Linked DNA regions of Homo sapiens: regions 1 and 3 are each linked to region 2. The links come from fine-mapping of genetic effects on gene expression. A gene starts in region 2. Each other region holds a variant in brackets. All regions are shown on one strand. Distances are between the middles of the regions.

Region 1 (8,178 bases), 100 kb after region 2:
TCCTCCTCTCTCTCCCTCCTCCCTCTCATGGTCTCATGACTATTATGGTGACTCTTGTCACTCACCACCCTGCCCCACCTGCTCCTGCATACTGTGAGCATCAGTTGGGGCCATGGATGTAGCAAGGGTCAGCTGTCATAGGCTCCCGGGGGGACACCTGGGGGAGGGACATTTGGGGACAGAGCCCCATCTGGCCATGCCCAGCCCCTGAGAGCCCTCATCACCGACTTGCATCTGGTGAGTTTGGCAGGGTCCTGTATAAGGATTAAAGTCCTCCAAGTCCTCATACAAAGTCGCTTTCCAAAAGTCTGGAATTTTCTTGGCCCTAGACACGGGAGATGCTCTTTATAATTTTCATCTTCCCACTCAGAAGGAACCACCTTTGAATACTCAGCCAGGCTAAAATTTGGACCCAAAACCTGTTAAAGCATCACTGTCTTAATTTCAGTGTTCATGATGGGGTTCTGGGCTGTGTGAGGGGTGGAGGGCAGATACCAGTGGCAGGTTTCATCTGTGGCCCTGGTAGATGTGAGTCCCGCAGCCGGTCAGCCCAGGGCCCAGGGCAGACCCCGGGCGTGGCTGCTTTCCCGCTGGGCACCAACGCACGCACGTGGTGTTTCCAGGGCAAAGTGAGCTCCCCACCCTCTGCCCGTCCCCTGCCCCGCCCTTAGATCTGCATCCCGTGGGTGGGGTGGGTTTTCCTGCCTTCCTCTTCCTGAGGGAGGCGATTTCTCCTTCCGCTTTCTCCTTGCCACAGTAGCTGCTGGGTTGGGAGGAGACATCCAGGCTGGGGCCTCAGCCTCAGGGTGCCAGTTAGCGTGTGGTTAGCTGAGAAAAAAGTATTTTTCTCAGCAGAAAATAGACACAACTGCATGTGAAGGGGCCACTTCCACTCCTTCATTCTCCATCCACCAGCCTTACTGGAGCTAGAGAGTGGGGGAACATCTGGGTCCGTGTTACCTGGATGTCACCTGCATACAAATGTCCTGGCCCGAGGCCACTGTCAGCACGGGTGCACAGGGGAGGCGCCTGGCCCGGCAGGTCGTGCTGAGGCTGATACCCGTGTCAAGAAGCTGGAGCAGGCGAAGAGATCAGAAGAGGGTAGAGGAGGTGGTCCGAGGTGTCCATTCCCATCCCCAGACCCCTGGGGCATTTCAGTGCACGCACAGCAAATAATATCACTGCACCACCACCACCACCACCACCACCACCACCATCACCACCACCACCACCACCATCACCACCACCACCACCATCACCACCACCACCACCATCACCACCACCACCACCACCACCACCATCACCACCACCACCACCACCACCACCATCACCACCACTACCATCATCACCACCACCACCACCACCACCACCATCACCACCACCACCACCACCACCACCATCACCACCACCACCACCATCACCATCACCACCACCACCACCATCACCATCATCACCACCATCACCGCCACCATCACCATCACCACCACCGCCGCCACCACCGCCACTGCCACCGCCACCATCACCGCCACCACTACCGCCACCGCCACCACCACCGCCACCGCCACCGCCACCACCACCACCACGAGTTGAGGGACTCTGGGATCAGAAGGCACTTTCCAGCACATTCACACCATTGGCCGTGGATGTTGTGGGTCAGGTGATGGGCACTGGAAGGGCCTTCCGCTTCTCTCTGCCCCTGGCCCTTGGTCATGTACAGCAGGCCGCTCCCCGGGCAGTGGAGAAGCAGCACCTGCATACTAAGGCTCGAGTCCCAGCCTCCCCTACCAGCCTCCCTCTCCACGTCCCCAGACACTCATGCGTTCCTTCCCTTGAGGTGGGTTCATGGAGCACGTACCCTGTGTCAGACAAGCTTCCAGGCTCTGGGCTTCTGATGGAGAACAGACCAGAGTAAACCTGGCCCCAAGGACCTTGAGCTCCACTCAAGGGGAGACAGACAGTGAACTCAACAAAACAGAAATGAGAGAAAGGATCAAGCTGGAAAGGGGATAAAGAATGAGTGTCGGTTTTGGATAGAGTGCTTGGGGAAGGCCTTCCTGAGATGAGACCTGACCAAAGGCCTGCAGGAGGTCAGGGACGGGCGTGCTTCTAGCTAAGGAGCAGCTGGTGCAAAGGGCCTGTGGCAGACGTGCACCCGTGGCAAGGAGGGGGCGAGCAGGCGGCTCAGCCAGGTCGGAGTGGGTCACACCTGAGGGGCAGGACGCTGGCAACCCCGACCGCTGAGGAAGACAGGTGCGAGCAGCATCTCGGCACAGCCAGACCCCCACCATACGGCAGCCCTCTGTGTCCCTTAAATAAGGATGCCTCCTCCCAGGCTTAAGAGATCATTGTTGCTCATAGTGATTTGTGTAGCCAACAATTCTTCTGGAAGAAGTTAGATGAACAGGGCCATGGAGATTTGGGGCCGGAAGAGCAGGACCCCAGGCTTGCCTCCCCTCTAGTGCTGGCCAGGCCGTGGATCCCAGGCGGGCATCTCAGAGAGCCATCTGAGCGGCCTTTCTGGAAGTGCCCTCCTAGGCAGACGCTGGTCATGAGGCAGGGCAGCGGGGAAGGGACAATCCTCCTGTGTTGTACATTGAGGGTTATATTTAGGGTGACTTGGGATGACTTGGCAGTATCACTTCCTGTGGTCGTCCCCTCCAGCCCTCAGCCACGGAGGGCAGATCCTGTCTGACAAGCATTGTGGGCAGACACGTGCCTGCACACACGTACACACCCACATGCACACATACACACACGCACACACATACACACATTGTGGGCAGGCACAACTTGGCATTCTCATCTGCCCTGGAATTGGTGGAGGGCTGGGGACATTGTCCTGGCCCTTCTGCAGGACCGCCAGGTGCCTGGCGGGGGAATCCTAGCCGTCAGCATCTCCGGAGCATCTGCTCCATGTCGGGCTCTGTGTGAAGGGCTGCATCCAGATCCCACATGAGCAAGACCGGCCTAGCCTCCCCATCTGGTTGGGAGATGCCAGGCAGAGGTGGAAGGAAGGGCGGCTGACCTGCCCCTTAGTCTGCTCAGCCACACAGGCAGCCACAGCCGAGGCTGCACAAGGACACTCCCCTGACCTTGCTGCCTGCTGGCCCCGGGTCTCCAGGCCAGGTCCGAGCCAGCCAGGCTCCTCCCCACCCATGTCACCGGCCTCTCTAGGTGGAGTCCACAGTGATCTTTGCTCCCCTTCCCCAGGCATCCAGCACCACACCAGGCACAGGGCCTGGTATTTCTGGGACAGCCCAGATTACACGTTTTCTCTCAGTTACCCCCTAGAATATTCTTGGACTTCTCAGACCCCATGTGCAAATTTTTAGCTTAGAAGTAATCACTGGGATCATAGACGATGTTTAGCAAATATCTGTTCTTTTGGGTGTTCCTAGGCCCCCAGAGGGTCTCCGGGAAACTGGCTCTTTTGCTGAGGCTAGAGACTATCTGGGCTAGAATGTGTCTGATGGGGCTCTCGGAGGGTGCACAGACAGTGCCGCGGTGGCCGAAGATCCACTATTCCAAGGCCGGATCTGCAGAGGATTTGGAAGTTGTCTGTAAGGAGCGCCTAGATCACCCGGACCTTCTCTCTCCCTCCTTGACTTCCTTCCTGCCTCTCGTCAAACAATTACTGTGTGCTTCCTGTGTTCTAGGCGCTGTGCTAATAATTGGTTATGGGATTATTCCTAGCCACACCCTGGGTAAATGGAACCCAGCTCTCTGTCCTTGGGAAAAGGGTCAGGAGAGAACTGGGGCCCAGCTGGGAAGCTGGAGGCTTGAGGCTGCTGGTCCATGTTGGAATGCTGTCTCCCTCTGCCATCCAGCACCCAAGCCCGGCGCCAGGCTCAGAGCAGGAACTGAAGCTTTTGCTGTTGTTGTTGTTTTTGTTTTTTGAGACAGTCTCGCTGTGTCTCCCAGGCTGGAGTGCAGTGGTGTGATCTCAGCTCACTGCAAGCTCCGCCTCCTGGGTTCAAGCGATTCTCTGCCTCAGCCTCCTGAGTAGCTGGGATTACAGGCGCGCACCACCACGCCCGGCTAATTTTTGTATTTTGAGTAGAGACGGGGTTTCACCATCTTGGCCAGGCTGGTCTTGAACTCCTGACCTCAGGTAATCTGCCCGCCTCGGCCTCCCAAAGTGCTGGGATTGCAGGCATGAGTCACCGCACCCGGCCAGGAACTGAACCTTGGTAGGAGAAGGAAAGAAGGAGTTCCTGTCTTGCTTTCCCGACCAGACTGGAAGCGCTCTGAGGGCGTTTTACACTTCGGTGTCTTCCCAGCACTTAGCATTGTGGCCTGCATGTAAGGGGTGTTCCGTGACTGCGTGTTGATTACACTTTGTGTGTATGGGTGGGTGCGTTGCCACAACTCTCCCTGCAGAATCTGTGGCCTCTGGTGCTGTGATTTAAAGACTAAAGATGGCAAAGAGTGGCTTTTATGAGCTGCCCCACTCCTGATTATAAACACACTCTCTATGAGTCAGAGGCCTGGGTGATCATGGATAAGTCACTTGCCAACAGTTAACTCCAGACTGTAGCTGCTGGGGCCACCGAGGGCGGCTGGAACATCACCATTCTGTGCCTAGCGTTTCAGCCGGGCTGAGGCCATTTTATTAATAATGATTTATTGTTTTTATTGCTTCCCAGAGATATTAAACATGAATCAAATAATGCATGTGATGATTCACTGGAGGTTCCCTTCCAAATTTAAAAAAGAATTAAAGAAAAAGTTTTTGACGGGTGTGCTGGTGTGGACACCAGGCAGGCACCTGAGAGCCCTCCCACCTTGAGCTCAGCCGTGGGCAGCACAGCACAGGGTGGACCTTGCCCTGCAGACAGAGCCATGCAGCCTGC[G/A]CAAAACCCCAGGGAGGACGCGCGTCTCACAAACACCTCTTCAGTCTAACATTTACAATGGTATTTCTTACAAATGGTTTCCACCCGAGATATATTACAATGTGGCCAAACCCCATTCATTTGGGACACATAAATTCAAAATTTGGAAATAGTTCCTTTGGGGCTCATGAACTGATCAAGTTTAGTCATTTCTCAAGCAGGGACCTGGCAGAAATGTTGCTTTTTACCATCTACTAAGACAAGAGCTAGGCAGCTGGTTCTGCTGAACAAGGTCCCGGGGAGAGGGACACCAGTCCTGGCTCAGTGAGCAGCTCCTCAGGTGCTTTGGAAGCCTCCTCTGGGGATAGACTCAAAGAAGTTTTCTATTTATTTATTTATTTTTCTTTATTTTTAAATGTTTTTCTCAAGGATGTTTTTTAGAGCTAGCTCATACCTCAGGGGCCACACTGTCCAAACACATATTGGACCCTGATGAGGAAAGTGAGAGCCGTCAGGGTGTGTGACATAGCCACTGTCACCCAGGCCTCCAGCTCCATTCTGCAGTTGAAAATGATGCCCTCATAACAAAGAGTTCTTTTGTGTGTGTGTGTGTGTGTGTGTGTGTGTGTGTGTGTGTGTGTGTGTGTGACGGAGTCTTGCTCTGTCACCCAGGCTGGAGTGCAGTAGTGTGATCTTGTCTCGCTGCAACCTCCGCCTCCCAGGTTCAAATGAGTCTCCTGCCTCAGCCTCCTGAGTAGCTGGATTACAGGTGCCTGCCATCATGCCTGGCTAATTTTTGTATTTTTAGTAGTGATGGGGTTTTACCATGTTGGCCAGGCTGGTCTTGAACTCCTGACTTCAGGTGATCCGCCCACCTCACCCTCCCAAAGTGCTGGGATTACAGGTGTGAGCCACCGAGTCCGGCCAACAAAGAGTTCTTATCCGTTCATTACAAACGCCCACTCTTTCCAGTCCTTACCTGATCAAGAATTCAGAGGCAATTTTTCAGGTATTTTTTTGACTCGGACTTTACAAATTTGAACTACCATTCAAGTAATTGGTCTGAATTCCTAAGTTTCGATGGTATTTTTCTCTTCCTTCTTCTGGCTGCCTCTCCTCCCCATACCCTGCATTTGTTAATGTACCCATTTGTTCCATATTCTGTTTGTTCTTTATTGCTCTATACACTGCTCCATAATGTTCTCTATCATTTGTCCATTCATTACCCATGAAGGTACATGCAGAGGTCACCAGCCCAGAGGTTTGTAGCAGGGACAAGTTACTTGCTGGTGGTGGTCTCCCCAAAAGTTTGGGCCTGCGAGTCATTGACACCTACACACTTTGAAAACACCCCAGGATGAAGTCTGGGACTGGAAGGAGCTCCCACCTTAGCCAGACTCTGGCCTCCTCCCCAGCTGTGTCCCCGCCAGCCCTTCTCCAGCCATGCCCTTTTGCCTCCCAGCACACTGAGGATTCCTCCTGGAATGCCCCTCACCCCGTCTTTGCTGGGTGAGTGTTTCCCCAGCCCCGCTGAGCTCAGGTATCAGCCCCAGCGCTCTGGGTAAGTCTGGGACCATCTCCTACATTGTCTGCAAAATCCTGCAGAAAGCCTGGCCTGTGCTGGTCAGCAGGATGCTGCGTTTCCTTTTAAACAGACCCAAAGCAGTCAGCAGCCACAGACTCCCCAGAGACGGAGATGAGAGGAGGGACCTCATGCCCTGAGGCAGCCCCAGCCTCACTCCCATGCCCTGCAGGCGCTGAGCAGCCCCCAGATCCCGGGCTCCTTTGCTGCCCCAGGGTCGGGCAGTTCTTGCATCTTGGACCGAGTGGGCTCTGCCCTGCTGTGGCATGACTGGGCTTCTTCTGTCCTTTTTCTTTATTTTCTCTTTGAAGAACAGGAGTTGGAATTTCACTCACCCTGCCCCAGCTGGATGTGTCTAGGCCACCGTGGTCCCAGGCTCTCTGCCCAGCTGGGCCTCAGGACCAGGTTTTAATGCCGCTGCTTGGGTGTGCCGAGCGAGAAGGGCTCGCCAGGCAGTGCAGAGATTCCACCGAGCCCAGGCCGCAGCCCCCACCTCCCGCCGGGCTGTGCTCAGTGTCAGGAATCGGCTCCCAAGATGGCCGCCTTTCTTGTAAAGCTGTGCCAATACCCCAGGCATCTGACTGGTGCTTTCCAGCTGGCACTCCTTTTACAGATTCCATTTCCCTTTATCCTCACAACTGCTCAGTAGAACCTGCAGGCAGGGACCCTTATTCCCATTTTACAGTCAAGGAAAATAAGGCCCAGAGAAGTTGAGACAGCCAGGACCATATGGCTGGAGACGGGGCAGGCTGGGCAGAGCCCCCAGCAGGGCCCCTGGGTCTGCGGGCTGCTCCCAGCAGCACCCCTCATATACACACCCTCATCCTGACTGCAGGCCCCTGAAGCTGGCATTCTGGTTCAATTTTACAGAGGAGCAAACAGGCTGGGTCTGGAGCGTTGACACTGGCAACTCTAGCCCAGCCTTGCCTGACTCCAGGGCATGGCTCCAAGACCCTGGAAGAGCTGCCTGTCCCTCCATGGCCCCTCCAGGGCGTGCTGGGTGCTGGCAGGGCAGGCTGAGGCACTCGACAGCAGAGTTGGCCCCGTAGTCTCAGTTTTGCTCCCGCTAGGGTGAAACACGGTTCCCTGGGGAAGGGCTGTTGCTCACCTCTTGGCCTGGAACATCAGGGTGGAATTTGCAGACGGAATTCTGCCATCTGACGCGTAGATCTTCCCCCCAGGCATGGGTCAGTGCTTGAGTCATTCTGCAGCTGGCACAAAGAGCCAGGAAGAATGCGCTCCAAGATGCCTGGGAGCTGGCATGCCAAATCACCAGGCGTCATCAGCACAGCCAAGCCAGGGTGGGGGCCTCGGGCAGGAGCAGCGCCCTGCCAGCTCTGGCTGACTGCACGAGGGGCCACATCTAGAGGGACTGATGAAGGGGCGTCTAAAGCCTCAGTATCTCCAGCCTGCTGTGCCCTCTTACATTTTCTCCCAAAGAGCAGTCAGCTTGCAGTATGCGCCAAGTCCCCGCAAATGGGACGTTGGGTGATTCACATGGTTGTTTCAGCTTTTGAGTTTTTGTTGTGTGATTGAATAGTAATAGAATTATTCTTGGTGTTCTATGGAGCATTACCGGGTAGTGGGGAGGTGGGCACACTGAGCCTCTACTGTTTCTCCCCTTCACCCCTCCTTGCTGTCATCAACATGCGTTCTCCTACAGTCATGCTCCGCGCTAATTCCTTTAGTCATTCCTTCCAGCATTACTGAAACTGGAAGAGTCTTTTGTGGCATGTGGGGATTCCTCGTCGTGCAGGGCTTGAG
Region 2 (8,178 bases):
AGGGGATATTTTAGTTTATCTTGAGCTTGCAAGGATGAAGGGGAAAGAGCGGGGGTGGGGGGGTGGCATCGGAACCTGCCTCTGAGTCACACTTCCTGGATGAGCCATGGGCCACAGCATCTGTATCAGGAGTGGTTACAAAACAGCGTGCCTCAGGGATAAACAAGCTGACCTAATGATCCAATTTTCCCAGCTCTGGTCCATCTACAGATTTGAGGCAGGATCCAGTGATTCTGCTGGCTGACTGGTCATGGTAAATTTCCAACTCTCCCCTTTCCAGGCACGGCTTTGGTTTCCTGCTGCAGCTGCTGCTGGGGAGTTATCAGGGCATTTCCTCCGCCTGTGAGCTCCTGGGGTCAGGGGAAGGTTGGGTGGCCAGAGATGCTGCCTCTACCCTAAGTCAGCGTCACCCATGCTATTCCCAGCAGCTGCATTTCTCCACTCTGTAATTACAAATGAAACTGGGGAATAGAATCAAAAGAGTACCTAGAAACAAGCTAGCCTCTACTTCCTCAAACATTCTGGGGCAGGAGTTTGTGCGCTGGAACAATGTTATTTGCAAGATTCTCCCTGGTGGATATACACTCAAGTATTAAAGTGCTACAAGGAATTAAAAAAAGAATAGTATTTCTTCCAGAGCCTGTGTGGGCCCAGCACAATGACACTGAATCTGGCTGTTAAACCTGGCTGTTGCTGATTCTAATATGTGGCCTTGGACATTTCATTTTTCCAAGTATAGCTTTCCTCATCTGTAAAATATGGAAACAATCTTTAGAATGTCGGAGATAGTGTATGTAAAGGTACTTCAGAAACAATAAAGTCCAAATCCCAATGACATTTTTTGCAGAAATAGAAAAACCCATCCTAAAATTCATATGGAATCTCAAGGGGCCCTGAACAGCCAAAACAATCTTGAAAAAGAACAAGGCTGGAGGACTCACACTTCCTGATTTCAAAACTTACCACAAAGCTACAGTAATCAAAACAGTGTGGCACTGGAATAAAGCTTGACATATAGATCAATAGAATAGAATAGAGAGCCCAGAAACAAACCCTTGAATATATGGTCAAATGATTTTTGGCAAGGGTGCCATGATCACTTAATGGCAAAAGGACAGCTTTTTCAACAAATGGTGCTGGGAAAACTGGATATCTACATGCAAAAGAATGAAGCTGGACCCTTACCTAACACCATATACAAAAATTAACTCAAAATAGATCAAAGACCTAAAAGTAACCTAAAACTATAGAATTTTTAGAAGAAAACTTGGAGCAAAATCTCCACAATGTTGGATTTGGCAGTGATTTCTTGGATATGACATTAAAGACACAGACAACACAGAAAAATAGACAAATTGGATTTCATAAAAATTTGGTGCATCAAAAAGCAAAATCGGGCTGGTGCGGTGTCTCACGCCTGTAATCCCAGCACTTTGGGAGGCTGCGGTGGGAAGATCACTTGAGGTCAGGAGTTGGAGGCCAGCCTGGCCAACATGGTGAAACCCCGTCTCTACTAAAAATACAAAAATTAGCCAGACCTGGTGGCGCACGCCTGTAGTTCCACCTACTCGGGAGGCTGAGGCAGGAGAATGGCGTGAACCCACGAGGCAGAGCTTGCAGTGAGCCGAGATCACACCACTGCACTCCAGCCTGGGTGACAGAGCAAGACTCCGTCTCAAAAACAACAACAACAACAACAACAACAACAACAACAACAACAACAACAAAGTGCTGGCGGTGAGGATGTGAAGAAATTGGAACCCTGTGCACTGTTTGGCAGAATGTAGAATGGTACACTGTGGAAAGTATTATTATGATGCTTCTTCAAAAAATTAAAAATAGAATGACCACATAATCCAGCAATTCCACTTCTGGGTATATACCCAAAACAACTGAAAATAAGATCTTGAAAAGATATTTGTGCACCCATGTTCGTCGCAGCATTATTCATAATTGCTAAAATGTGGATGCAACCCAATGATTTCTTGACAAACGAGTGGGTAAACACAATGTGGTATACACACACATGGAAATATTACTCAGCCTTAAAAAGGAAGGAAATTTGGACATACACTACATCATAGATGAATCTTGAGGACATTATGCTAAGTGAAATAATCCAGTTGCAAAAAGGAAATACTGTATGATTCCACTTATGTAAGGTATTAGAGAGGTAGTCATTATTTAATGGGTATAGAGTTTCAGTTTTACAAGATGAAAAGAGTTCTGGAGATGGATGGTGGTGCTGGTTGCACATCATTAATGTATTTAATACCACTGAGCTGTTCACTTTAAAAGGATTAAGATGATAAATTTTATGTTATGTGTATATTATAATAAAAGTTAGAAAAAAATTGTCATAAAACTAAGTCAGATATTAAGAACAATCAGAATTACTTCTGTCTTGTTTACAGTCATCATATGAAAAACAAATTGTTTATCTAGCATGACACCTGTTATGGGTTGAATTGTTTCCCTCAAAAGATGCTGAACTTCTAACCCTTGGTACCTGTGAATGTGACCTTATTTGGAAATTGGGTCTGCACAGATGATCAAGTTAAGATGAGGTCATTAGGGTGTGCCCTAATCCAATAATGACTGTGTCCTTATGAAAAGGGAAAAGAGACAGGTATATAGAGAAGATGTGAATTCACAGGGAGCGCACATGGCCATCCATAAGCCAAGGAATGCATGAGGTTACCAGAAGCTAAGAGACAGACATGAAACAAACTGCCCCCCACATCTCTCCAAAGGGGCCAGCCCTGCCAACACTTTGATCTTGGACTTCCAGCCTCCAGAGCTACAAAACAACACATTTCTGTTGTTTAAGTTGCCCAGTTGGAGGTGCTTGTTACATTAGCCCCAGGAAATTATACAACATCTTACCTGAATTTGCTTTCTTCTTTGCTCTAGTTAAATTCAAAACTACATATTGAATAACGACGGTGTGCTCTCTCTCCATGAAGCTTCGGGGTGGGTAGACAGTCCTCCTCTTGAAGGAACAGGAGGGACGCAAGGGAAGGGACCAACTTGTATCTCATCTGAGAGAGATACACTCCTGGAATAAGAGGTCTGCGGTTAAGTGTGTTTCTCTAGAAGTTCAGAAACAGAGGAAGCATCTGCGGGCTAAGCTGCTGAGGGCTAGGTGAGAGCTAACTGACCTAAGTTTTGAAGGATGGATGGGTGACAGGTTGGAGGGGGAAGATGGAAAAGTCACATGGGAGAGGAACAGCATGGGCCAAGTGTGGAGGAACCAGTGAGTGGGCTGGGTTTCAGAAACAGGCCTTGGTCTGCTTTTGAGCCCTCCCTGAACTTTTCCACCCCAACCCCACCTCCTGCCTGTGTCTGCCATGCACCTCCCTTCCTGTGAGTCTGTGGACAGACTTTGCCCCTTTGCCCTGTGTGTGCTTGGGAGAAATCTGCTCAGTTTCTGTGGCAGGGATGTTTCTACGTGTTCATCAAACCGGCTTTGTTTACTTCCGAAACACTCATGAAGACCACAGCTGCCAGAGCCCCTTGCATCCTGGTGGGACTGTGCGACTACTTCTGGCCCATGGATGTGGGTGGAAGTGACGTGTGCTTCCCCAGGCCTGGCTCCTGGACCCCACCGACGGCTTCTCACCTGTAACCCCACCAGCCTTCTACCTGGATACTTCACGGGGAGCTAGAGTGGCCTTGGCTAAGAAGGAGGCATGGCACCCGCGGGTACCGGGCCGCCTTCATCAGTCGGTGCACTCTGGTCCACCGCCCACATGCCTTCATGTAATCTTCACTGTAGGGCCCACAGGGAGGGGAACTTCCTCGAGGTCTAGCTTTGCCTTTCCGCCTTCAGAGCCAAGTAAGAATGAGGGGTCTGGGCTCGGCCCACCTTCCCTGCAAGGCCCTGTGCCCGCTCCCCTCAAAGCTGGTCTTGCATGTTGCTCTGGCGGCCTCTGTAGCAGGAGTTCACTCTGTTTTCCGTGGAGGAGGAGTGGAAGGAGGGATTCAAGCTCTCCCCTAGAGACGCTAGAAAGACAGTTTTGTCTCAGCCTCATACGATCGCCCAGCTCCACATTTCTGGCTGTTTCTGTGGTTACCTTTCTTCGGGGATGTTTGGGGCGGGAGGTGGGTGTGTGTGTATATTTGCTCTTCTGAAGCCGTTTTTCCGGAGCTCCTGGTGGGGGTGGGGGTGCTCTGTCCCTGGTTCCTCTCGAGGCAGGTGCAGGGGATGGAGGATGCCCCCCTCCCCGAGAGCCAGGAGGCGCCGACCCTGGGCAGGAGGTGCCAGACCGGCGCCTCTCCCGCGTGGAGCTCGAAGACCACAGATGCCTGGAAGGGAGGAGCACCTTCCGTGGTTAGGTGGGGAAACCGAGGCAGAGGCGGCCCAATGGACTCGCCTAAACGGCCTGGGGAGTCACTGCAGGTAACCAGAGCTGGAGCCAGGCTTCCCACTCCAGGCCCGGGGCTCTCCCCCGAACAGGCGTGGGAAGGGGTGCGAGCTGCACGCGGGGCTGGGGCTGGGGGTGCGGGGCTGGGGCAACTCGGCTCTTCCCCTTCCTAGGCCGCCCGGGCCACTTCCTGCGGCGTGGGGGCGGGGGGCGCGGGCGCAGGGCTGGCCCCTCCCGGGCGCCGCCTCTCGGCCTCTTCTATACCAGCAGGCCAGAGGCCAAGGGTTAGGGGAACAGAACCGGTGCCCGGCTCCGCCCCTGTCCCGAAAGCCACTGGGGGCTGGGACCCGGCAGGGCCAGGTTTGGGCCGCGAGGGCCGAGGAGCAGCGAGGTGCAGGGGCTGCGAGGGCCGAGCCGGGCGCTGAGGGTCCGGCAGGGGGCGTGGAGGGGGCGGGGCCCGGAGGGGGCGGGGCCGTAGGAAACTTGAGCGCCCGCCTCTGGCCGCGCGCCCCGCCCCGGCCCCCGCCTCCGGGTCCCGCCTCCAGGTCCCGCCTTCGCGTCCCTTCCTTCCCGGAGCTGGCAGGCGGGCCGCGGCGGCGGCGGGCAGCGGACGGGCGGACTGACGGGCGCCTCCACCTTGCTCCCTCCCTGGCTGCCGGCTTCCTTTTGTCTTTCTGGGCGGCGATGAGCGCAGGGCCGGCGCAGCAGCTGCGGGCGCACGGAGGCCCGCGCTGCTAGTCACTCCTCCCGGCCTCGGCGCGCTTGTCCCGGGCAGCGGCCCGGGCCCGCTGCAGCCGCCGCCGGCGCCGAACTTGGGCTCGGGAAGCCGGCGGACCGCGTCCTGCGCCGGAGCAGGTAGGGAAGGGGCGGGCTGCGGTCTGCTGGCTGCTGAAGTGTGCCCCGGGCGTGTGCACCCGGCGTGTGCACCGGCGAGCGCTGCGATCCGGCTCTTTGCGTGTGTGTTGTGCGCGCGTGTGTGTGTCCGGGAGTGCCCGCGTTTCTCTGCGCGGTGGAGTTGTGGGTGACTGCGGACGGTGGTGTGTCTTTCGAATGGCGTGTACTCGTGGGCATCCATGTGTGCCTTAGGTGTGCACATTTTGGACTGCGTTTGTGGAATTGTGTGTCGGGGCGCAGTTGCTGGTGGGGAGCGGTGCCTGGCGGGTGTCGTGTGTGAGCAGCTGTGCGCAGAGCGGGGTGGCGGGGTGGGTGTGGGTGGTCCAGCCCCACGCCCAGAGCCCCCTGTCCCTGCTGGTCGGCGCAGTGCGTAGCTTAGGAGCCTCGAGGACAGCTGGGACCCGACGGGCAAGGGCGGGCCTCGCGGGCAGGCTGGGCAGCCCTCAGGGAACAGGTCCGTGCGGCCCACGTGGGTCGCCTGTGAGCTTCTGCCAAGGGTGGGGGCCCACGCGGAGGCGATCCGCTCGTTCCTCCCAGGGCCATGGGGCGACGAGGAGAGCCCTGGCCTCCCCGCGACCCGCACTGCGACCTGGGCCAGACGCGCCACCTTCCCCGGTCGCGGTTTGCTTCTCTTTAAAATGAGGACAGCTCCTCCCTTGGGGGCTGTGGTGACAGGTGAAATGAGAACGCACTGAAGACAGCTCTTGGTCCAAAGCCCCGCACACAGTAGGTACTGTGTTAATTGGATTAGCGTCTCCTGTTTAAAATCCTTTTTTTTTCCCCTTTATCGTGGGTGGGGCCTTACATTTTCCCCGGGCGTGTTTTGTGCCTCTCCCTGGCCCTAACTTAACCGCGAAGCACTGAGATTCGAGAAAGTTTAGCTGCCAGCTGCGCTGCCTCCTGCAGCACCTCCCGGGCGGCGCCGCCTCCGCGAGTGCCCGAGAGCGCCGCGCTGGGCGCCGGCCCTGCCCCAGCCCCCAGGCTCCCGCGCAAGCGTGGGGGTCCCTCTCCTGGCCGGGAGGCAGCGACTGCGGAGTTGAGAACCCTTTGGTTCAACAAGTTCCTAGTCCGGGAGGATGCAGCTCAGCTCGTGGAGTCCGAGAGTCACGGCGTAAAATTGGCGCTTCCCGCACATGCAGATCTCGGGCTCCCGGGGTGTCCCGGCCGCCAAAGGCCACCCCTTTCCTCCTGGCTGACCCCAATTCCACCAGAGGAGGATGTTTGCCAGGGACGCCGAGTCCAGCTGCTGGCCTCGGCATTAGACAACCCCCAGCCCCAGCCCCTGCCATCCCTGCTCCCTTGCAGCCAGCCTCATGCCGGGGGTGCCACATGGGACACCTCCTCCTAGTCCCACACCTTAATTTAAAACATTTACTTTTGAAACCTACTAGTCGTAAAATTGAACCGCAGTGAACGAGCACCCAGCTCTTACCACGACTCACTCTCTGGAGAGTTCTGGCGCCTCGGCGCTGGCTCGGACGCAGCAAGGCCAGCTCTAGGGGTCGGGTGGCTCTCGGCCAGAGCGAAGGATATTCTTTCCCTTCATCGCCTTGGTGTCTTTCTCTGGGGGAAAAAAATCGCCTTTAACCAAGGGAGCCAAGATCTCACCAGTGCAGGAGGCTCTCAAAATGGAGCGCCGGCATGGGGTTGGGCTGCGGAGGGGACAGCATGGGCGGCCTTTTGGTATGGATGCGCTTCCCAACTGTCAGGGGCTACGTGATGGTGTTCCCAGAGAGGCGGGCTGCTTTGCGGGCTTTTAGGAGCCAGGGATAGAAACCTGGTCCGGTTCCTTTGGTTTCCCTCGGCCGAGACTGAAGCCCTGCAATCCTAGCCATGGCAGGCCAGGGGGATGCGATGAACTCATTTTCTCATTTTTCATCCTGACTTAGTGACAGGGGCACACTTAGAATGCACCCTGTTTTCTGTTTCATCAAATGATTTTATGTCCTACAAGAAAAAAGGGCTTTTGGTGTGAATCCTACTCTTTCCTCATAATCAGGTTCCATAATAATATTAAAAAAAAAATCAGTCTGGCTTTCTCAGCTCAGAAGACAGACCCAAACCCAGGTTTGTGTTTTGTTTTGTTTTTGTTTTTTTCTAGTTAAAGCCAGCCCTTTGTCTCAAGCAAGCCAGTGTTTTGGCCTTAGATCTATTTCTGTTTCACTTTTGAAAGTGCCTGTAATTACTGAGCTCTTGAGGTTTTATTGGATAATGTGGCAAAGGGAAGGCCCGGGGGCCCTGCCTCTCCCTTGCGGTGGGATGTGGTGCCACGGTGGCACATTCTAGCCTTGCCTGCTCCCTCTGCGTCCCACTTTCATGCTGTTTTTAAGGTGGAACAGAAATGTCAATGTGTGATAACAATTTGGGAGACTTTGTCTTTGGAATCCAATAAATGGAAGGTCCTTTGATCTGTGGAGAAACCAGAACAAGTCAAAACCCCAGAAGAACAGAGATTTGCCCAAACTCCAGCCAATGACCCATTTATTTCCAACAAGCCCTCCTAGAGATAGATTCTAAGTGAAATACAAGAACGTGGACACACTCCGTCCCCTTTCTGGCCACAGGGCTGTGCAGAATTAGAAGTGCAGTCTATGGAAGGACAAGGACTGGACTTCGCTTGGTGCAAACGCCCCAGCCAGGCGCCCCATACTCACCTAGCACCATTTCACCCTGGAGCTGTTTCCTCCTGTTGAAGCGCTGGTGCTCACACCCCCTACCTTCAGGGCTCTGCAAGCACAGTTCCAAGGTCTGCAGCGCGGGTACAGTGCATGCCCTGCTGAGTGTGCGTCAGAGCAGTTGTCTCCCTGTGACACTTATTCTAAGACCCTTTTTGCTACTCATAAGTGGTAGAGTACCACACTCACTCATGAACCAGTGATAATCCAGGGTACTAACGGGGGCCCCGGAGTTTATTTGG
Region 3 (8,172 bases), 32 kb after region 2:
GGTCTTCAACCCTCAAAACACTTCCTGTTATTTAAATCTTGGTCCTTTGATTTTTTTTTTTTTTCCTTTTAGAGACTATGCACAATTTATGTGGCAAGCTAGAGATGCTTTCTTTTTCAGAGCGGCCTTTATGCTGTGTTCGGGGCTGTCTGTCGGCGCCACAGGGAATGGGGGCTGGTGAGTCGTGCTCAGAAGGTCCCAGTCTAGATGCTTCTGACATGGACAAAAGGAGAATTCCTGACTTTTTGGTGGATGTTTGCAATTCCCAGAATGCTTATTCTTATTTAGTCCTCATAGGAGAGTGGCGAAGGGCAGCAGCTTTGGAGCAAGGGCCACCCTGCCCCTCCCCACCAAGCCCTGAGTCGTCTAACCTTCCCGGTGTATTAGTCAGCTCTGGCTGCTGGAAACGGGGTCATAGTCTGGGTGCCTTAAACAACAGGAATTCTTTTTTTTTTACAGTATTGGAGGCTGATGTCTGAGACAGGGTGGCGGCAGGGTTGGTGTCACCCGAGGCCTCTCTCCTCGGCTCCGTGTAGCCCTTTCTCCCTCTGTTCTCACACGGCCATCCCTCCGAGTGTGTCTGAGTCCCAGTCTCCTTGTGAGGACACCAGCCCTAGATCAGGAGCCACGCAGTGACCTCATTTTACCTTCATGACCTCTTCAAAGTCCCTGTGTCCAAATACAGTCACATCTGGAGGTAGTAAGGATTGGGGCTTCCACATAGGGGTTTTGTGGGGGACACACTCAGTCCACGTTAACTCACTTCCTGCCCACGGCAGGGGCTCTCTGTCAGTGTGTCTCCGACTGCGGACCCCGATCATCTTTGTGAGAATGCAGGTTCCCAGGCCCACACCGTGCTGGTTGAGTCAGAGCTTCTGGGTGCAGCCTGGGGGTGCAGCAAGCCCACCCCTGCATTCGGAGAGCCTTAGCGGGAAGCCTGTTGCTTGTGCCTCCTTTGCAGCCCCGGCCTCTCCAGTTCTCTGTGTCTTGCCATCTTGGCTTCTTCCTCATCCCGCCTCTCGCTCCATCTCGTGGCCTCCCATCTGCTCTCCCGGCTGCAGGAGCGGTTTCTCTAAGCCTTGCAAGTGACCGCACCCTCTTACTGCATGCGGGCCTTGCCAAGAGCCTGCAGAGGGCGGGGCGGGCTCTGGGGACAGCCTGGACTCTCCTGCCTGCCCCCAGGTGCCCCCGGCCCAGCCACAGGGTGCTGGCTGCCTGTTACTCAGCACGTCCGCCTCTCCTGCCTCCTGAGCCCACAGGCGCCCTTCCTGTCACCCGAGCGCCCTCTCCTTCCTCACCTCGCCACCTACGCATCGTCACCCCTCCTCCTGCGTTTCCTCCTGTCTCCCCGGGGAGCTCGGAGTTCTGCAGGCACGGGGCTGGCTCCTTTCTTCATGTCCCTTGTCCCACAGGACACCGTTTCTGAACCCAGGAGACACTCAGGAAACCTTGCTGGTGGAACGGATGCAGCAGCGAGGTTTTCCGGGGCAGGAACACCCTCCCAGGAGCTTTTCCACGGCCAAGCGCTGGCTGGTGGTGGAGCTGCGCTGAAGTCAGTGTGTGCTTTGGGCCCAGCTGCACTGTGCCCGGGGTCCAGGGATGGGTGTGAGGCTGTCTGCCCCCCACTGCACGCCCGGCTGTCAGAGGCATCTGTCTCTTCCCCCGCATGCATCTTTCTCCCCGTCTGGCATGGTGTTTCTAGTCTTTTGTGGATGGGGACATAAACAAGCCGCCATCAACTGCTTGGTGACATTGGCCAATCCTGTGGTGGCCCCAGCTGGGCTTGCTGCCTGTGTGTGGTGAGGGTGCCCTTCTTGTCACCCGTTGTCATTTACGAGACAGCCCTGTGTCACCTGTTGATTCAGAGGGAGCTCTCCTCATCACCTGTTGTCATTTATGAGCCCCGTGTCACCTGTTGTTGCTTCACAGGGAGCACTCCTTGTCACCTATTGTCATTTATGAGCCCCGTGTCACCTGTTGTTGCTTCACAGGGAGCACTCCTTGTCACCCATTGTCATTTATGAGCCCTGTGTCACTTGTTGCTTCAGAGGGAGCGCTCCTTGTCACCCGTTGTCAGGTGTACTCACTTTGCTTCTCCCTTCCTGCTTTTGGGGACGATCACAGGACAGTGGCTTCAGAGGGGAAGTACCTCGACCTGGCTGAGGTCATGCCCAGAGCCTGACTGCTCTCTCCACCCACCCATGATCCCGTCAGCTTCTTCCCCCTCCTTCTCCATCTGATCTGAGCATTTACCATTTCCTTCCATTTAAGCTTCATTTGAGTTGCATCATGATGTTCTCCTTTTTTCAAAGTTCCATCTGCCCACAGGTTTCCATTTTCTCTAGAACCCTCCTCCTTCCTCTCTAGCCCCTGGCCCGCCCCTCTGCGGTTCTCAGGAAGCCCCTCGGTGCCCCCTGCCCCTTATCTAGAACAGCTTCTGCCTAGGGTGGGCAAGGCAGGGTGGGAGGTGGGGGGTAGCCGTGCAGGGAAGGGGTGAAGCGGGCCCCTGTACTCCCTAGCTGGGCTGCAGGCTTGGAGGAAAATAAGAGTCAGACGCTTGTTAAAACAGTGAGGACAGCTTTATTCGAGGAAAATGCAGTCGGGGTTGACCTTATCAGCAGGGGAGAGATCAGCCCAACTCCTAATACAGCAAGGAAGGGACAGAGCTGGGAAGTGGAGTGGGCTGGGTGAGTGGAAAGTAGCTGCGAGAAGACATCACAGGTAGGGGGATTCTTGCCAAAGGCAGGGGGGGACTTTGATGTCAAAGGTGGGGATGAGGACTGATTGGATCTCAAGGGTGGTCAGATGTGAAGGGCGTGAGAGGCTCACTAAACTGACTAAGCAGGATTCTTGCTGAGACTGGGCCAGGCAGGCTGAAGACAGGAGGCAGAAAGAGGGCTCAGAGGAGCCTGAGTGAAGTTTGATCTTGGGGTGAGGGGTGCAGGGGGGAGGGGCAGGGTGGGTCTTTGTTGGGGCTCTGTGGGAGATTTCAGGGCTCACTGGATGTGTGGGGCACAGTGGGCCCTGCCTGAGCCCCATGACGCCTGGACGCTGCCACCAGGGGCCTGACCTGCTGACGATCTCTGCACTGGGTCTTTAATCAGCCTCTTGGGCATTGTAAATGCTAGACAAAGATTCTTCTCTTTTTAAAGTTTACTAATTTCCCTACGATAAAACTAATGCATTTTCACAGGAGAGACTCGGGAAATTACCAAGGAGCGTGAATCAGGTGGTCACAGTGAATTGTGGATGTTTGTGTCTGTCTTGGGGAACTGGTGTAACGTTTCTCCATCTGACCCCTGCTGTCTGTTGGAGGTCAAGGAGCCAGCCTGGCCTCACAACTTCCTCCTTTCAGCAAAGTCAGGAGGCCATTCCCTCCAGGGATGGGTGGGCTGCAGCCTCTTGGCACCTCTCGGGATCCTGCTGGCAGATGTATCACCGTAGCCCAAGCCAGCCTAAGCCAGCCTCCTGTGGCCCAGCACCTTCTCTTCCCACGTGGGCAGCTGTGTTCCCAGGCAAACCTTCCTGGAATTGCTCTGTGCTCTCAGAGCTGGTGTGCTTTGGTGTTCAGCTGTGGCCATTTTGGCTTTGAGTTTGATTTGATTTTTGAAGAAAGTTTTTATTTCTTTACCCA[A/G]ATATTCTATGTCTCTTTGGTAAGACTGGAAAACACAGAAAAACAGAGAAAAAAATTCCCCCATAACTACCCTGCCCACCTCCATATAACTTTTATTAGCATTCTGAGCTATACCCCTCCAGACTCATTTCTGCCTCTCCAGAAGTGTGCATAAAGTCTAGAAACATAGGTGAAGAGACCTAATGCCATCAAGAACATCAACCTGTAAAGGAATAAAATAATGTCATCTGTGTCCAGATTTTACAGATGCTTTGTAGATATGTGTAACAGAAATGTGGGTATGTTTTAGCAAAAATAAGACCATATTTTTGTTTTATTTTGATTGATTGTACTATAAATTCCAGTAGAGCATTACAGAGCCAGCCCAAGCCCATCTCTCCTCTTCTCTACTCTTTTCTTTCCCCAGTGACCAATAGCCACTCTGCGGAGGGAAGTAGGGATCATATTTGTGCGCGTTTTACGCTCTTGCTACACATGTGCGTAACCTTAAACAAAACATTAGTTTTTATGTGTTAGAAATACTCATAAATGGTGGCCCAGGCATGGTGGCTCACGCCTGTAATCCCAGCTCTTCGGGAGGCTGAGGCAGGAGGAGGCTTGAGGCCTGGAATTCAAGACCAGCCTGGGCAACATAGCAAGACCCTGTTTTGTTTTGTTTTGTTTTTTAAACAAACAAAAAAACCAACAACAGTTAGGTGGGTGCAGCATCATGTACCTGTAGTCCCAGCTCTTCAGGAGGCTGAGGTGGGAGGCTCTCCTGAGCCCAGGAGTTTGGGGTGATAGTGAGCTGTGGTCACACCACTGTACTCCAGCCTGGATGATGGAGTGGAGTGAGACCTTGTCTTTAAAAAAAAAGAAAAGAAAACAGAAAGAAATACTCATAAATGGTATATATATATATCACTTTGTAATTTGTTCTTGACTACTTTGTCAACAATTTTTAAGCTGTATCCATGTTGATACATAGATGTGGTTCATGGTCTTCTTTTTTCTCCTTTTTGTTAACTGCTGTATACAATTCCATTGACTTTTTTTTGAGGCAGGGTCTCGCTCTGTTACCCAGGCTGGAGTGCAGTGGCACGATCTCGGCTCATTGCAACTTCCACCTCCCAGGCTCAAGCAATCTTCCCACCTCAGCCTCCCAAGTAGCTAGGACTACAGGTACATGCCTGGCTAATTTTTGTATTTTTTATAGAGTCAGGGTTTTGCCAAGTTGCCCAGCCTGGTCTTGAACTCCTGAGCGCAAGTGAGCCACCTGCCTTGGCCTCCCAAATTGCTGGGATTACAGGCGTGAGCCACTGTGCCAGCCCCCATTGTCTAAATAAGCCATCGTTTCTCTAGTCATATACAGTTAGGTCACTTCCATTTTTTCATTAGTATAAAGAGTGCCATATGAATATTGATCCTCCTTGAGTGCTGTGGAAGGAAGCCTCTAAGATGCCGCCACTGGTCCCCACATCCTGGTCTTCACACCCTTGTGTAATCCCTTCCCTCGGGTGTTGGCTGGACTTAACTGACTTGATTCTAACAAATAGAACACAGCAGGAGGAATGGGACATCACTTCTGACATCAGGTTATAAAAAGACTGCAGCTGCCAGCTTGGGTGTTCTCTGTTGCCCTCTTGGATTGCCAGCCCTGGAGGGAGCCAGATGCCATGTCTCAAGGCAGTCCTGTGGAGAGGCAGGCCTAGGTGACAAGGGACCAAGGCCTGCCAACAGCCATGTGAGTGAGCTTGGAAGCAGATCTCCATCCGCTCCCCACTCCCAGCTGAGCCTTCGGATGAGACTGCTGCCCTGAAAACAGCAAAGGGGAACCTCATGAGAGACCTTGAGCCAGATTCCCAGCCCAGAGAAATTGTGAGATAATGTTTGTTGTTTTCGGCTGCTGACTTTTGGAGGGTCATTTGTTACACGGTAACAGATAACCAATACGAGCACACCCTGAGAATTCCTTAGAGGTCTAGAATATTTAGCAGTGGAATTGCCAGGTGCTATGGTATTCTCACGCTCAACAGTACTGTTTATTACTAAATTCATCTCCAAGGCATTTGTGGCAGTTTCACTCCCCTCTACAAGGGTCAGTGAGCTCCTTTTCCTCATACCTCTCCGGCACTTGTGTTGTCAGACTTTAACATCTGAACACTCTGATGGGTGTAAAATAGTATCTCATGATTATTTGAATTTGTACTTCCCTAAGTTCTAGTGAAGTTGGACATATTTTCGATACATTATTGTCCTTTCTGCTTTCCTCTGCTGTAAATTAATTGCATGTTCGTATCCTCTGCTGTAAATTAATTGCATGTTCATATCCTCTGCTGTAAATTAATTGCATGTTCGTATCCTCTGGTGTAAATTAATTGCATGTTCATATCCTCTGCTGTAAATTAATTGCATGTGCGTATCCTCTGCTGTAAATTAATTGCATGTGCGTATCTTCTGCTGTAAATTAATTGCATGTTCGTATCCTCTGCTGTAAATTAATTGCATGTTCGTATCCTCTGCTGTAAATTAATTGCATGTGCGTATCCTCTGCTGTAAATTAATTGCATGTGCGTATCCTCTGCTGTAAATTAATTGCATGTTCATATCCTTTGTCCAGTCTCCTTTTGGGTGGATTATCTTTTTCTTAGTGATTTGTAGATTTTCTTTTTTTCACTCTAGAGACTAATCCTTTGTCAGTTCATGCTATTTTATACTCTGCTTTTTTCAGTTAGCAGCGTATTGAGAATGTTCTTCTATGCCAATGTATACATCATTTTATTGACATTCCATTGTGGAGATGGGTCATTTATTTATTTAGGTGGACGTGTAGGTTGTTTGCACTTTTGCATTAGTAGGAACATGACTGTGTGTCGGTCAGCTGGGCTATGCTCTGGTACTAATGACCCTCCAAATCTTAGTGGTTTGCAGCAATGAAGAATTCTTTGTCCCTCAAGTGACATGACCATCACCTGTTGGTTGTGGCTCTGCTCTATGACGTTGTCCCTCAGGGAGCCAGGCTTTCAGAGCAGCCCCATCTGAGACATTGCTGGTCTCATGGCAGAGGGAAAAAAGATGGTGGAACAACATAATTCTATTTCTGTTTTTCCTCTTTAGAGACAGGATATTGCTGTGGCACCCAGGCTGCAGTGCTCTGGTGCTATCATAGCTCACTGCAGCCCCGGAATCATGGGCACAAGTGGTCCTCCTGCCTCAGCTTCCCAAGTAGCTGAGACTATAGGTATGCACCACCACACCTGGGTAATTTTTACTTTTTATATTTTTCGTAGAGATGGGGGCCTTGTTATGTTGCCCAGGCTGGTCTTGAACTCCTGGCCTCAAGTGTTCTTCCCACCGCAGCCTCCCAAAGTGCTGGGATTACAGGTGTGAGCCACTGGACCCGGCAGGAACAATATACCTCTTAAAGCTTCTGCTCAGACGTGGGAATGGCTATGTGGTGCGTGTCAGTTCCCCTCACATTGCATTGGCTGAAGCAAACCCTGGGGCCCAACCAGTGTTGGCGGGGTTAGAAGTAGACCCCTCCCATAGGGAGGCCAGGGAGGGAGGATTTTGAGCCAAGACCACTCACCACGTGCTGTGATGAGCAGTTGCCTCCCCCTCCTTTCGTGTCTTCGTGCCTCCTCACGTATTCTTACAAGTAGAATTGCTACATTAGGAATATGCATATTTGTAAAGTATTTACTATTTATTATGTCAGCTAGGTTTTAACTGTCACTGCATTTGCTGTGAATTATAGGTAATTATTCATCCTGATGACCATTTAAAAAAGAAGAACAATATTATTAGGTAGAAATAGTCCCTGGCTCCCCGGTTGCCCACCGTGACTATAACAGCATATCTAGCTTGGTAGTTTTCAAATTATTTCCACGTTTTATTTACTTCTCACAGCCTCCCTGTGGGGTTGCAGGTGCTTCTCCACTCCTCCACTGACAAGGTGCCTGAGGCTCAGAGAGGCTGAGAAATGTGCTCTGGGCTGCACAGCTGGGGATGAGGCGTAGACCCTGGCCCTGCTCTGTTCTGGGCTCTTTCTCCTCCACTCTGGCCTTTGGAGGCTGTGGCTAAGATCTTCCCCCAGCCCCTTCCTTCCCACCTTCCCTTCCTGCTCTTGTGCCCCGTTTTTCACAGTCCTCAGTGGCTGGTTTCTCAGTCCCCCAGGAGGTGCAGGCTGGTTCTTAGGAATGGTCTCTGTCAATGTTCCCGGCAGTACCTCCGAGCCTGCCCTCTGAGGATGGGTCGGCCATGGCTGCGCCGGCTTAGTCTGTATTTAGGTATCACTGACTATCACTGGACTTGGGGAGGGGATTTACTATTTTTAGAGAAAGTCAGGGGAGCTCCATAAATCCTGTTAGTCAACAGAACTGCAGAGAGGTGGCTGTTTATGAAGGAGAGTGACTTTTTTAGAAGTGGCGCATTTAGAAGACCACATATTCTATCATTCTGTGTACATGAGCGGTGCAGAATAGGCAATTCTAAAGAGACAGAAAATAGATTCGTGATTGCAGGGAGTGGGGAGGAGGGATGGGAAGCGACTCCTAAGG

Direction of the effects. Alleles are on the strand shown, and positions count from the first base shown. SD is a standard deviation of normalised expression in the study named. Not every link is listed here.
With allele G in place of A in region 1, the expression in neutrophils of the gene that starts at base 4,949 in region 2 is lower (moderate effect, 0.48 SD a copy in CEDAR).

Evidence for each region.
Region 1: its variant is fine-mapped to the expression of HPCAL1 in neutrophils (CEDAR, PIP 0.93).
Region 3: its variant is fine-mapped to the expression of HPCAL1 in whole blood (INTERVAL, PIP above 0.99).

The regions. Positions count from the first base shown.
Region 1 is chr2:10,398,025-10,406,202 of GRCh38, forward strand. The region is part of intron 2 of HPCAL1 (hippocalcin like 1); the gene reads left to right. Among named protein-coding and RNA genes, the nearest start is that of SNORA80B, 45 kb to the right of the region's middle. The variant G/A (reference allele first, on the strand shown) is at 4,854.
Region 2 is chr2:10,297,956-10,306,133 of GRCh38, forward strand. It overlaps HPCAL1 (hippocalcin like 1), which reads left to right and starts at 4,949. Exons shown (of 5, transcript NM_002149.4): 1 at 4,949-5,222. It overlaps LOC101929691 (a long non-coding RNA gene), which reads right to left and starts at 4,762. Exons shown (of 4, transcript XR_922791.3): 1 at 3,623-4,762; 2 at 2,887-3,058. RefSeq lists a cis regulatory region at 1-469, enhancers at 1-262, 5,524-5,583 and silencers at 4,484-5,263, 5,148-5,345, 5,664-5,843.
Region 3 is chr2:10,330,034-10,338,205 of GRCh38, forward strand. The region is part of intron 1 of HPCAL1 (hippocalcin like 1); the gene reads left to right. Among named protein-coding and RNA genes, the nearest start is that of HPCAL1, 31 kb to the left of the region's middle. RefSeq lists enhancers at 921-1,020, 1,551-1,750, 1,580-2,167 and a silencer at 1,131-1,180. The variant A/G (reference allele first, on the strand shown) is at 3,635.